Regions from separate parts of the Homo sapiens genome. Here region 2 is linked to region 1. The links come from fine-mapping of genetic effects on gene expression. A gene starts in region 1. The other region holds a variant in brackets. All regions are shown on one strand. Distances are between the middles of the regions. Region 1 holds the start of FBXW8 (F-box and WD repeat domain containing 8). Region 2 overlaps FBXW8 (F-box and WD repeat domain containing 8).

Region 1 (5,000 bases):
ATGAAGGCAATGAGAATGATGGCCTTTGTGATGAGCCACTTTCACTTAATGAATAGTAAATACATTTTCTCTTATAATTTTCTTAATGACACTTTCTCCTCTAGCTTACTTTATTATAATGCTACAGTATATAACACACAGAAGATACAAAATATGTGTTAACTGACTTATCTATAAGGCTTCTGGTCAACAGTAGGCTATTCGTAGTTAAGTTTTGGGAGAGTCAAAAGTTATACACAGATTTTTGACTGCAAGGAGGTCAGTTCTCCTAACCCCCCAGGTTGTTCAAAGGTCAACTGTACATGATTTGCTTCTTTACTATTTTTGGCATCAATGCCTATACCTCTAAGGTGTTACAAATGGAAAGCCTTGAGAATCAGGACCTTAAACCAAAGGAGGCTATACAGTAGAGTATAATGTCTTAAACTTGCCTGATCATACCAGTCATCAGATTTCAGGGCCCCTTCCCTGGTGATGGAGTTAGCAGGTCTGGGGAGGGCCCAGAACCTATATTATAACCAAGCCTCAAGTGATTCTTATGCCAACTCAAGTTCACGTGGTGAAACTTGGAGTTGAAAAGACCTGGATCCAAATTCAATCCCCAGAATCTATCAGTGGGGTAATGCTGGGCAAGTTACAGAGAATCTCTGAGTTTCTTCATTTGTAAAAGGAGAGTTAAAATCTACCTCACAGGATTGTTATATTCGAATTAGGGCAGAGCACAGGACTAAACACTTGGTAAAAACTCAAATAGTAGCTATTAATGCTATTTGAGTAAACTACATATTACATAAAATAATAGGCCATTATTTCTTGAAACAGCTTGCCACTTAAAAGAATTATTCTCGGCCGGGCGCGGTGGCTCACGCCTGTAATCCCAGCACTTAGGGAGGCCGAGGCGGGCGGATCACGAGGTCAGGAGATCGAGACCATCCTGGCTAACACAGTGAAACCCCATCTCTACTAAAAATACAAAAAGAAATTAGCCGGGCGTGGTGGTGGGCGCCTGTTAGTCCCAGCTACTGGGGAGGCTGAGGCAGGAGAATGGCGTGAACCTAGGAGGCGGAACTTGCAGTGAGCCGAGATCGCGCCACTGCAACTCCAGCCTGGGCGACAGAGCGAGCGAGACTCCGTCTCAAAAAAAAAAAAAAAAAAAAAGAATGATTCTCAATTGGGAGGATCACTTGGGCCCAGGAGTTTGAGACCAGACTGGGCAATACAGGGAGACCTTGTCTCTACCAAAAAATTTAAAAAATTAGCTGAGTGTGGTGGCGCATGCGTGTAGTCCCAGCTACGCGGGATGCTGAGGGAAGAGGATGGCTTGAGCCAGGCAGTTTGAGGCTGCAGTGGGCCGGGAGAGCAACAGTACACTCTAGCCTGGGCAACAGAGCAAGACCCTGTCTCAGAAAAGAAAGAAAGAAAGAAAAAAAAAAAAAAACAGGAAAAAAAAAAGTGGGTTCCCAATTGTAAAGCTGTAGGGACTTCCTTTGGGCCTAATTTAAATCAAACCATTAGAACCTGGAGCCTTGTCCTCTTAACCTGGGAGCCACGGATGCATTTCAGGTGTTCTTGATTTTCCCAACTTTCTGAAGGGGATTATTTTTAACGGACACAGGGTCCCCAGCTTCCTCCAGATTCTCCAAGGTATCCACGCCCCACAAAAAGATAAGAAACTCTATCCTAATGAAAGTGCCCAGGAGATTCTTCCTCCTCTTCTTCCTTTTTTTCTGAGATAATTTTTTTGAATACGTGCACGGTTACAAAAATTAAATAGTGCAAACAGTATACAAAGGTAAAATTACTTCCTATCCATCATCTGGGTCCTCCTTTTCAAAGGCAACCTTTGTTCAAAGTTTAGGTAGCCTTCAAGAGCAGGATTTCTCAACCCCACACTTACTGATATTTTGTCCTGGATAATTTTTTTGTGCGTGGTGTCCTGTACACTGTAGGATGTTCAGGAGCATCTCTGGCCTCTACCCACTAGATGCCCAGTAACATGCACACATACACACCCCGATGAGGCACCCAAAAATGTCTGCAGACACTGCCACATCTGGGGGAACAAAATCGCCCTGGTTGGGAAGTGCTGCTTCCAGAAAGACCCCTATGCAAGCACAAACATTGGTGTTTGTGCGTCTACTCATTTTCTCGGGCAACTAGTGGCACACAGTTACTCTCCAAATCACTGCAGGGGTTTGTCCTGGGGGCGGGGGCCGGCGCAGGCATGGGCGGGGGGGAGGCGACGGCCACTCACCAGGTCGCGGATGAGCTGGTCCACCAGCTGCTCCCCGCCCCCGGCGCCCTCGCGGGCCAGAGGAGAACGTGAGCGGCTCGCTACGTCCTGCCCCTCGGCCCGAGTCGCCCGCGCCGCCGGGGGCCTCCCCGCGCCCTCCAGGAGACGCTGGGCCAGCGCCGGGTCCCCCGAGGCCTGTTCGCCGCGCCCGGAGCCCACCTCCGGCCGCCGAGCCCGCCTCTCGGCAGCCTCGGGCCGTCGCCGCTTCTTCGGCGCCTGGGCCTGCGCCAGCTCCTCCTGCCAGCGCCGACGGAACTCATCCAGGCTGTAGTCGTCCATATTCGCCGCTCCCGGCGCTCCACGTTCTCCTCGGTTCCACCGGGTGCCACGAGACAGTCCCGCCCAGGGAAGTGTCCGCCGCGGCCGGAAGCCGCTGCCGCCGCCGCTCTAGGGTTCCGGGTGGGCGTCCACGCCCCCGCCACGCCCCCGGCGCTGCCCCTGTACGCACGTGGTGGTCCGGCTTGTGGCTTGTGGCGCCCAAAGCAGAGGTTTACGCAGCTGCCCCTCAGCCCGTCAGCTCTGCTGCCTATCACTTTTGCTAAGCTCTGACTTTGCGCCAAGCATTGTTCCTTCATTCAACAAACATTCATTCAGCAACTACTATATGCCAGGCACCAAGAATTCAGCATTTAAATCTGTAAAACAAAACAAAAACTCTGACGTCTTGGAGCATGCGTTTAAGTAGGGAGACTTTAAACAAAGAAATATGAACATTTAAATCAGTGATAGGTATTAGGAAGAAAACAAAATAAGGTAAGGTAAGGGGAGTAAGGATTGATAGTGAAAGTCTGTTTAAGATGTTATTTAAATTAAAATCTAAAAGAGAATCAACAGGTGGATAAAGAAACTGATATATACATATGGTGGAATACTACTCAGCCATAAAAAAGGAATGAATTCATGGCATTCGTAGCAACCTGGATGGGATTGGAGACTATTATTCTAAGTGAAGTAACTCAGGAATGGAAAACCAAACATCGTATGTTCTCACATATAAGTGGGAGCTAAGCTACGAGGATGCAAAAGCATAAGAATGACTTATGGGACTTTGGAACAGGGGAGGGGGACGAGGGGAGGGTGGGAAGGTGGGGAGGGATAAAAGACTATAACTTGGGTTCAGTGTATACTGCTCGGGTGATGCGTGCACCAAAATCTCACAAATCACCACTAAAGAACTTACTCATGTAACCAAATACCACCTGTTCCCAATAACCTGTGGAAATAAAAATTTTTTTTTAAAAATCTGAAAGAGAAACCAGCCAAGGGAAGGTCAGATCTTAGGAGAGAGATTTCCAGAAGGAAATCCAAGGGCTTTAAGATGGGAAAGAAAATGACATACGATGGCGTTCCACTTAAAAATGTTTTCTTTGCACCTGATATTCCCTCAGCAGGGAACTTTTCCCCCCACCTTGACTTGGTTAACTCCTACACATCTTTCATATCTCAACTCACATTTCACTTAATCTTCCAACCTCCACTCAAGAAACATCAGGTATCCCTGTTACTCATTCTCACAGCATCCTGTACTTCTCATCATAATACATAACACAATTTGTAATTTTATTTTTATGTATATATATATATCCCTTCCCTTCTAGATTGGCAACTCTTAGCTTTGAGACTGGTGATTAATACATGCTCAATAAATGGTTTTTTGTTTGTTTGTTTGTTTGGTTTGTTTTGTTTTTGAGACGGAGTCTCGCTCTGTTGCCCAGGCTGGAGTGCAGTGGCGCGATCTCGGCTCGCTGGAAGCTCCGCCTCCCGGGTTCACGCCATTCTCCTGCCTCAGCCTCCTGAGTAGCTAGGACTACAGGTGCCCGCCACCACACCTGGCTAAGTTTTTGTATTTTTAGTAGAGATAGGGTTTCACCATGTTGGCCAGACTAGTCTTGAACTCCTGACCTCAAGTGATCCACCCACCTCAGCCTCCCAAAGTGCTGGGGTTACAGGTGTGAGCCACCACTCCAGGCTCAAAGATGCTCTTGCAATTAACTGTCCCTTATTCCTTGTCTAACTCTTCTTAGTCTCTCAGGCCTCTTCTCTAGAATCACTTCTGTAAATAAACTAGCTGCCTACAAACCCAGGGCTCAGGCTTGCTTACTGTGGGAAACCAGGCTTGGACAACCTTCACTGTAGAAAATTAGAGTATATGGTTGGGCGTATATTCACACCACTACACTCCAGCTTGGGCGACAGTGCGAGACTCTGTCTCAAAAAAACAAAAAAAAGAAAGAGCATCTCTGAGTTGGTCCTACTGTGGCAATTTAGGCTCATTCCATTAGCACCTTCTAAGGAGCCTTAGAACACAGCTCAGAATTGTCCTCCCAAGAGATAAGAGCCAGAAGAGGAAAGCATTTGTCCAGTGACTCTCATCCCCTACTAGAGAAAGGCTAAGCCAAGGAGCTTTAACAACCTCCCACTTCTAGATTGGGTATAAGTAAACGGATTATCATGGATGTTCCGTACCAAGGCAGCAGAGATGCTCTGGGGCAAAAAGCAGGAGGTACACTGTGCAGCTAACAGGAACGACTGTCAGGTTACACGTGCACAAAGCCAGTTGCTACAGCAGTGACTAAGGTAAAAGATGAGTGAAGTGATGCAAGATGGAACATAAGCATCCAATACAAGTAAGCATTCTCTTTTTTTTCCGTAAAGGTTTTATTATACACAGAAGGGGAAGAAGTCTCAGTTCTTCTTGGCAGCCATT
Region 2 (5,534 bases), 56 kb before region 1:
ATATCATAGTGTCGATCTGTTAAACTGAAGGGGGACCAAAGGTAACGCCACCTGACGTCTGGGGAAAGAATAGAAGTTGTTGTTTATCACAGAAACAGTAACAACCCGAATCAGACCAATGAAACAAGCTCAGCATGAGAGGGGAGCAGGGAAACACAAGGGCTCTAAAAAAGGAAGAGCCCTTAATACCAAAATGAACTTGAAACGAATCAAAGATTTCAATGGAAACACTGCAGCCTTGGAAGCACTTATAGATTTTACCCAGGCGTTGAGTAATCATCTTCCCAACCATGACGTGAAACCCCAAAGGACAAGACTGACAAGCTTGATGTAAATTTAAGCTGCCAGACAGACCAACTGAAACAGAGCACAAAGTTCAGAAACAGACCCAGATACAAAGTGAATTTCATAGCTAAAAGCTTATAAAGGCAGCACCTCAAACCAGTTAGGTAGAAATGGGCTCTCCGAGAAGAGATGCTGGAAAAAAGATGTACTTGGAACCATACTGCATGCTAATCCAAGACGAACTTGTCAAGATAAAAATATAAAAAATAAGCCATAACAGTAACAGAAGAAAAAGAAAGAACTACAAGTAGCAGGTACACATTTTTTTTTTAATTTAACCTTTCTCACATTAAGAGAAATGTAAATTAAAACTACACTTGGTGACCATTTCTTCTCAAACTGATGAATACCCAAAAGCTGGAAACATACTTTGTTGGCAAAACTGTGAGGAAGCGGGCACACTCTCATGGCTTGCTGGTAAGAGCATAAAATAGTAAAACCCCACTTGCATTTACCCTGTAACCCAGAAAACAATCCTCCTTGCACTTGTGTGAAATGTCATCTTTACAAGGTTTTTCACTACAACACTGTAACGGCAAACACAACACAACTGTCCTTCAATAAACCAAAGTGCTTATACACAATGGAATTACCATTCAGGTGTGCAAACGGGGTACTCTCTCTACACAGACATGCACTCCCTTTTAAGATATGCTATTTAGAGAAAAAAGCCAAGGTGTGGAATCATGTAAAGTAAATAGTATGCTATCTTTTGTTTTTTAAAAAGGGGGCAATAAGAATATACACACTCATATTTTCTTGTACTTGTAATACTAAAATACAAGGATATACAAGAAAGTAAAAAATATGGTTACTTCAGAATGGAGCAGACAAAAGTGGGTGGCAGCAAGATTTCTCAATATATAACTTTATATTATTTTGATCTTTGAACCCTAAAAATGTAGTAATCAAAAACATTAAATTACAAAATAACCCCACTCACTTTTAGATTAAAAAATTAACATTGTTCACACATACCAAGTACCTTCTAGAAAACAAGTCCATTAAAGAATAAATGACAAGCCAGGCGCGGTGGCTCAAGCCTGTAATCCCAGCACTTTGTGGGGGCCAAGACAGGCAGATCACTTGAGGTCAGGAGTTCGAGACCAGCCTGACCAACATGGTGAAAGCCCAGCTCTACTAAAAATATAAAAAATTAGCTGGGCGTGGTGGCAGGCGCCTGTAATCCCAGCTACTCAGGAGGCTGAGGCAGGAGAATCGCCTGACCCCAGGAGACGGAGGTTGTAGTGAGTCGAGATCGCACCACTGCACTCCAGTCTGGATGACAAAGCCAGACTCTATCTCAAAACAAACAAAAAAGAATAAGTGACTTACGGAAAAAATATCGGAAACACATATGGCAAGGATTATTTCCCAAGCTTTCTTTTCAACCAGAAAAGATGACAACCCAAAAGAAAAATGAAGAAAGACAGGAACAAACAATTTGCAGAGAAAGAAATAGAAACAGCTAACAACACACAAAGAAAAGATGTCCACATGTAATTAAAGAAAGGCAAACAAAGACAATAAAATGCCATTTTTACCTGTCAGTCACTCTCACATACTTTTGGTGACACTATAAACTGGTGAAACCTTTTTGGAGGGCAATTTGGCAATAGTTATCAAAGCCTAAAGCAGCCAAAGCCTGCAGCCATAGCCTCCAACCTAGCAATCACTAGCACCTCACCCCAGGGCCACCCTTGGACAAGTCCATCCTGGCATTTGTTCAAGTATATTGCTTGCAGCACTGTTTTCAATAACAAAAATGAACAACTCAAATGTGTATCAATGAGGACCCTAATAAATAAATGATGGTACAGCCACATAATGCAGTACTACACAGGCATTAAAAAGAATAAGGTTTACCCTGTAAGTGTGAACACGGAAGATCACCAAGATGTGCCATTAGGTTATTAAAAAAAAAAAAAAAGGTGCAGAGAAGTATACAGAGCAGGACCCCCCACGAGTAAAATGCGAGAGGGCCTGGAAGTGGGACAGGGAGGAATACCTCGACTTCTTTTTGCATACTTTTTCTTTGTCATTTTATATACATTTTTGCTCTGTTTGAATTCTAACTATGACTTTAAAAAAAAAAAGAATTTAAAATACATTTTGGCAATCACTTGCGAAGCATTTTACCAAAGAAAGCAGATTCTTAGCCTGGCCAACATGGTGAAACCCCGTCTCTAGTAAAAATACAAAAATTAGTTGGTTGTTGTGGTGGGCAC[T/C]CATAATCCCAGCTACTCGGGAGGCTGAGGCAGGAAGGAGAATCACTTGAACCCGGGAGGCAGAGGTTGCAGTGAGCCGAGATGGTGCCACTGCACTCCAGCCTGGGTGGCACAGCAAAACCCTGTCTCAAAAAAAAAAAGTAGATTCTTTATCATGCCTACATTGTTTCCCAACATTTCTGTGCAACAACAGGGGATGAGGGCAATGAAGACAATTCTCACAATATAAAACCAGCAGCAGCACCCCTGCACATCACCTCAAGCTGTATTTTCAAGCTCACGAGATGTGAGACATGGGCTGCAAATCAATTGGGCGCACATTTCTACAAGAGTCTTTATGTTCAGGATTCCACAAACAGCACGACCACCGCAGCACGGCCCTGGAGACACAATCACAGTTCTGGATTCACTGCTGACTTCAACCTACCTGGCTTCTTTGCACCTCTGTTTCCCCATCTGTAGAAGAATATGTGTGTGCATGTTCGTGTGTGTGAATGGTAGGGAAAGGCTATTAGATGATCCTAAAACTATATGATTCTAACTTAAAAGTACTGCAATCTTTGCATAGGTATTTTGGAAACAAAACTCATTGATAATTTGGAAAGTAGCAAACATGTTCAAGCTGCTCTTATGGTATCTATCCAGGGTCTCAATAAACATATGAAATATTAATTATACCACAGAAACAGCTCAGCTGAATTTCTATAGGCTGAAAAGGAAATCCATCAGTAGTGTCTACTAACATCAAACCAACATCACGTTGCTAAAGTAATTATATAAAATATAAAAATATTTTCAAGGCCAGGTGCAGTGGCTTATGCCTATAATGCTAGCACTTTGGGAGGCTGAAGCAGGTGGATAGTTTGAGCTCAGGAGTTCAAGACCAGTCTGGACAACACGGCAAAACTCCATCTCTTAAAAAAAAAAAAAAAAAAATTAGCTGGGCATGGTGGCATGCGCCTGTAGTCCCAGCTACTCAGGAGACTGAGGTGGGAGGATCACTGGATCCCGGGAGGTTGAGGATGCAGTGAACTGAGATAGTGCCACTGCACTCTAGCCAGGGCAAAAAAGTGAGACCCTGTCTCAAATATATATAGGTATGTATGTAAGATCTCAGCCCTAATTTTTATTTTTAAACAGCACATGGGTATAAAATTCCCCATTAGCTACTTTAGTTTTGTTCCTCTGAGCCAACTGCTAATGTCACACTGACTCTGAAGATTTGCAGTGGTGCCATGACATGAACACTTAACATTCTGAAATATGCTGTGGTCCCAACTTTTGGGCAAGTGGGGACATGAAGCTTGTGGAGATTCAACACTTCACAACATAACGGAGGATAGGAGCATGACAGGTGGGCATACTGGATATCATGGCCATTGAAATGACCATTTCTAGTAGTTATACGCTGTCAAGAGTTTCTTTGCATAGATAAAGCTAACTTTAGACTATTCGTACCTAGTTCCAAAAATCCATAGTTGTTCATGTACAAAAAGAATTCTATCAATGTCAAAGAGAAAACATATTATTACCAATTATCTGGTATGGTATATTAAGTGACAGGAAAAGGTAGGCACTGACTTTTATTTTTCTATAACTACATTTATCAATAGATGACCTATGTCTATCCCCTTTTCACTATTCCCTTTGGGCTGAGCAGAGGCTAAAGGAAAAGTAGGCCAAGTATATTTAATATTTTACATCAAACAAGTTATTTGCTTAAGATGCTTTGGCCAGCCTTGTGTCTGGCACTAGCGCCCAGCCTGACAGTTCCAGTAGGAATTAAACACCAGTTTTAATGGGTGCTGTGTTCCAATGCCTACTAATGCATTGACGGTTGTTGGCCAACTTCTTCAAATAAAAGCAAGAGTGAGTGTATGTGTGTGAACATGTGTGTGTGCCCACGTGTACATATGGAGGGATTACAGGGGGGAGCCGGCCACAGCTGCTTAATTTTTGTAAAGCTTTTTTTTTTCCTTAATAGGGAGGAGGGTTGTGGTTACTTACCATCCTCATAAGCTGCTACTGCCAACGAGCTGTTTATCCTCACAAAGGAGACATTTGGCTGCATTCCAGGCTCATCCTCCTCGTCCTCTGATTCCAGGAAGGGGGCTACGTAGTCCCAGGTGCGGGTGTCCCACACTCTCACATCCCCTGATGTATATCTGGAAGAGAACGACACACTTGGTTCCAAAAGGAGATTGAAGAGCAGGGCTATGGTGGGGAAAATGCACAGAGCCTTACAACAACAGACAAGTAAGAATCGGGTGGTGTAGAGCCACTGCTGAGGCACTGTTTAGATGAGTGACTCCAACAGGAGAAAATGTCAACTAGATGACAGAAGGCTGTGAACACGCTTCACATTCTCACAGCACAATGGTGACAATTTCAAATGAGAAAACAATAATAAGACATGGGTAGCAAGATCTCCTTGCTTTTCCTTTTACACTATTACAACAATCTGCTCCTGCAAGCTCTCCCACTACAGGGATCACTTGCAGAAATTTGTATAAGCCCCACTATTTACCCACAAACGCACACACTCACTCACAGGAAAGACAGAGAGAGATGCTGCAGGGATACTCAGAACTAATGGTCTCACAGGCACAGGCTTTCTAATACCTCATCCATGCATCAGATTTGACTGATTAAAGTCCCTGAAGACTAATTGATTTGCTGAAACAATTAAATCTTGCCTTTAGCAGCCAGACAGTGCTGCCTGCTCATGAAAAGCTCTTGCTGAATGCGCGACACTGCCCGGTTTTGCCCACTTAGAAAATAGAAGTACTCACTCTCTCCTATGACTAGTGCCACTCCAACAAATGACTGCTTCCATCAAAGCCAGGCCAGGCCGAACCTACTCAGACTTGAGGCCCCCAGGATGACAGAATGGCCAGATGATAAAGTGGGGTGCTGCCCATCACCAAGGTATTTAAGCTATGTTGCTTATGTCTGCTGCAG

What was found. PIP is the estimated chance that this variant, and not a neighbour inherited with it, causes the effect.
Region 2: its variant is fine-mapped to the expression of FBXW8 in tibial artery (GTEx, PIP above 0.99).

Annotation. Positions count from the first base shown.
Region 1 is chr12:116,908,610-116,913,609 of GRCh38, reverse strand. FBXW8 (F-box and WD repeat domain containing 8) reads right to left here and starts at 2,660. Exons shown (of 11, transcript NM_153348.3): 1 at 2,255-2,660. The coding sequence starts at 2,572. It also overlaps the pseudogene RPL36P15. RefSeq lists silencers at 2,193-2,452, 2,613-2,832.
Region 2 is chr12:116,963,901-116,969,434 of GRCh38, reverse strand. FBXW8 (F-box and WD repeat domain containing 8) reads right to left here. Exons shown (of 11, transcript NM_153348.3): 5 at 4,581-4,738. Among named protein-coding and RNA genes, the nearest start is that of FBXW8, 56 kb to the right of the region's middle. The variant T/C (reference allele first, on the strand shown) is at 2,574.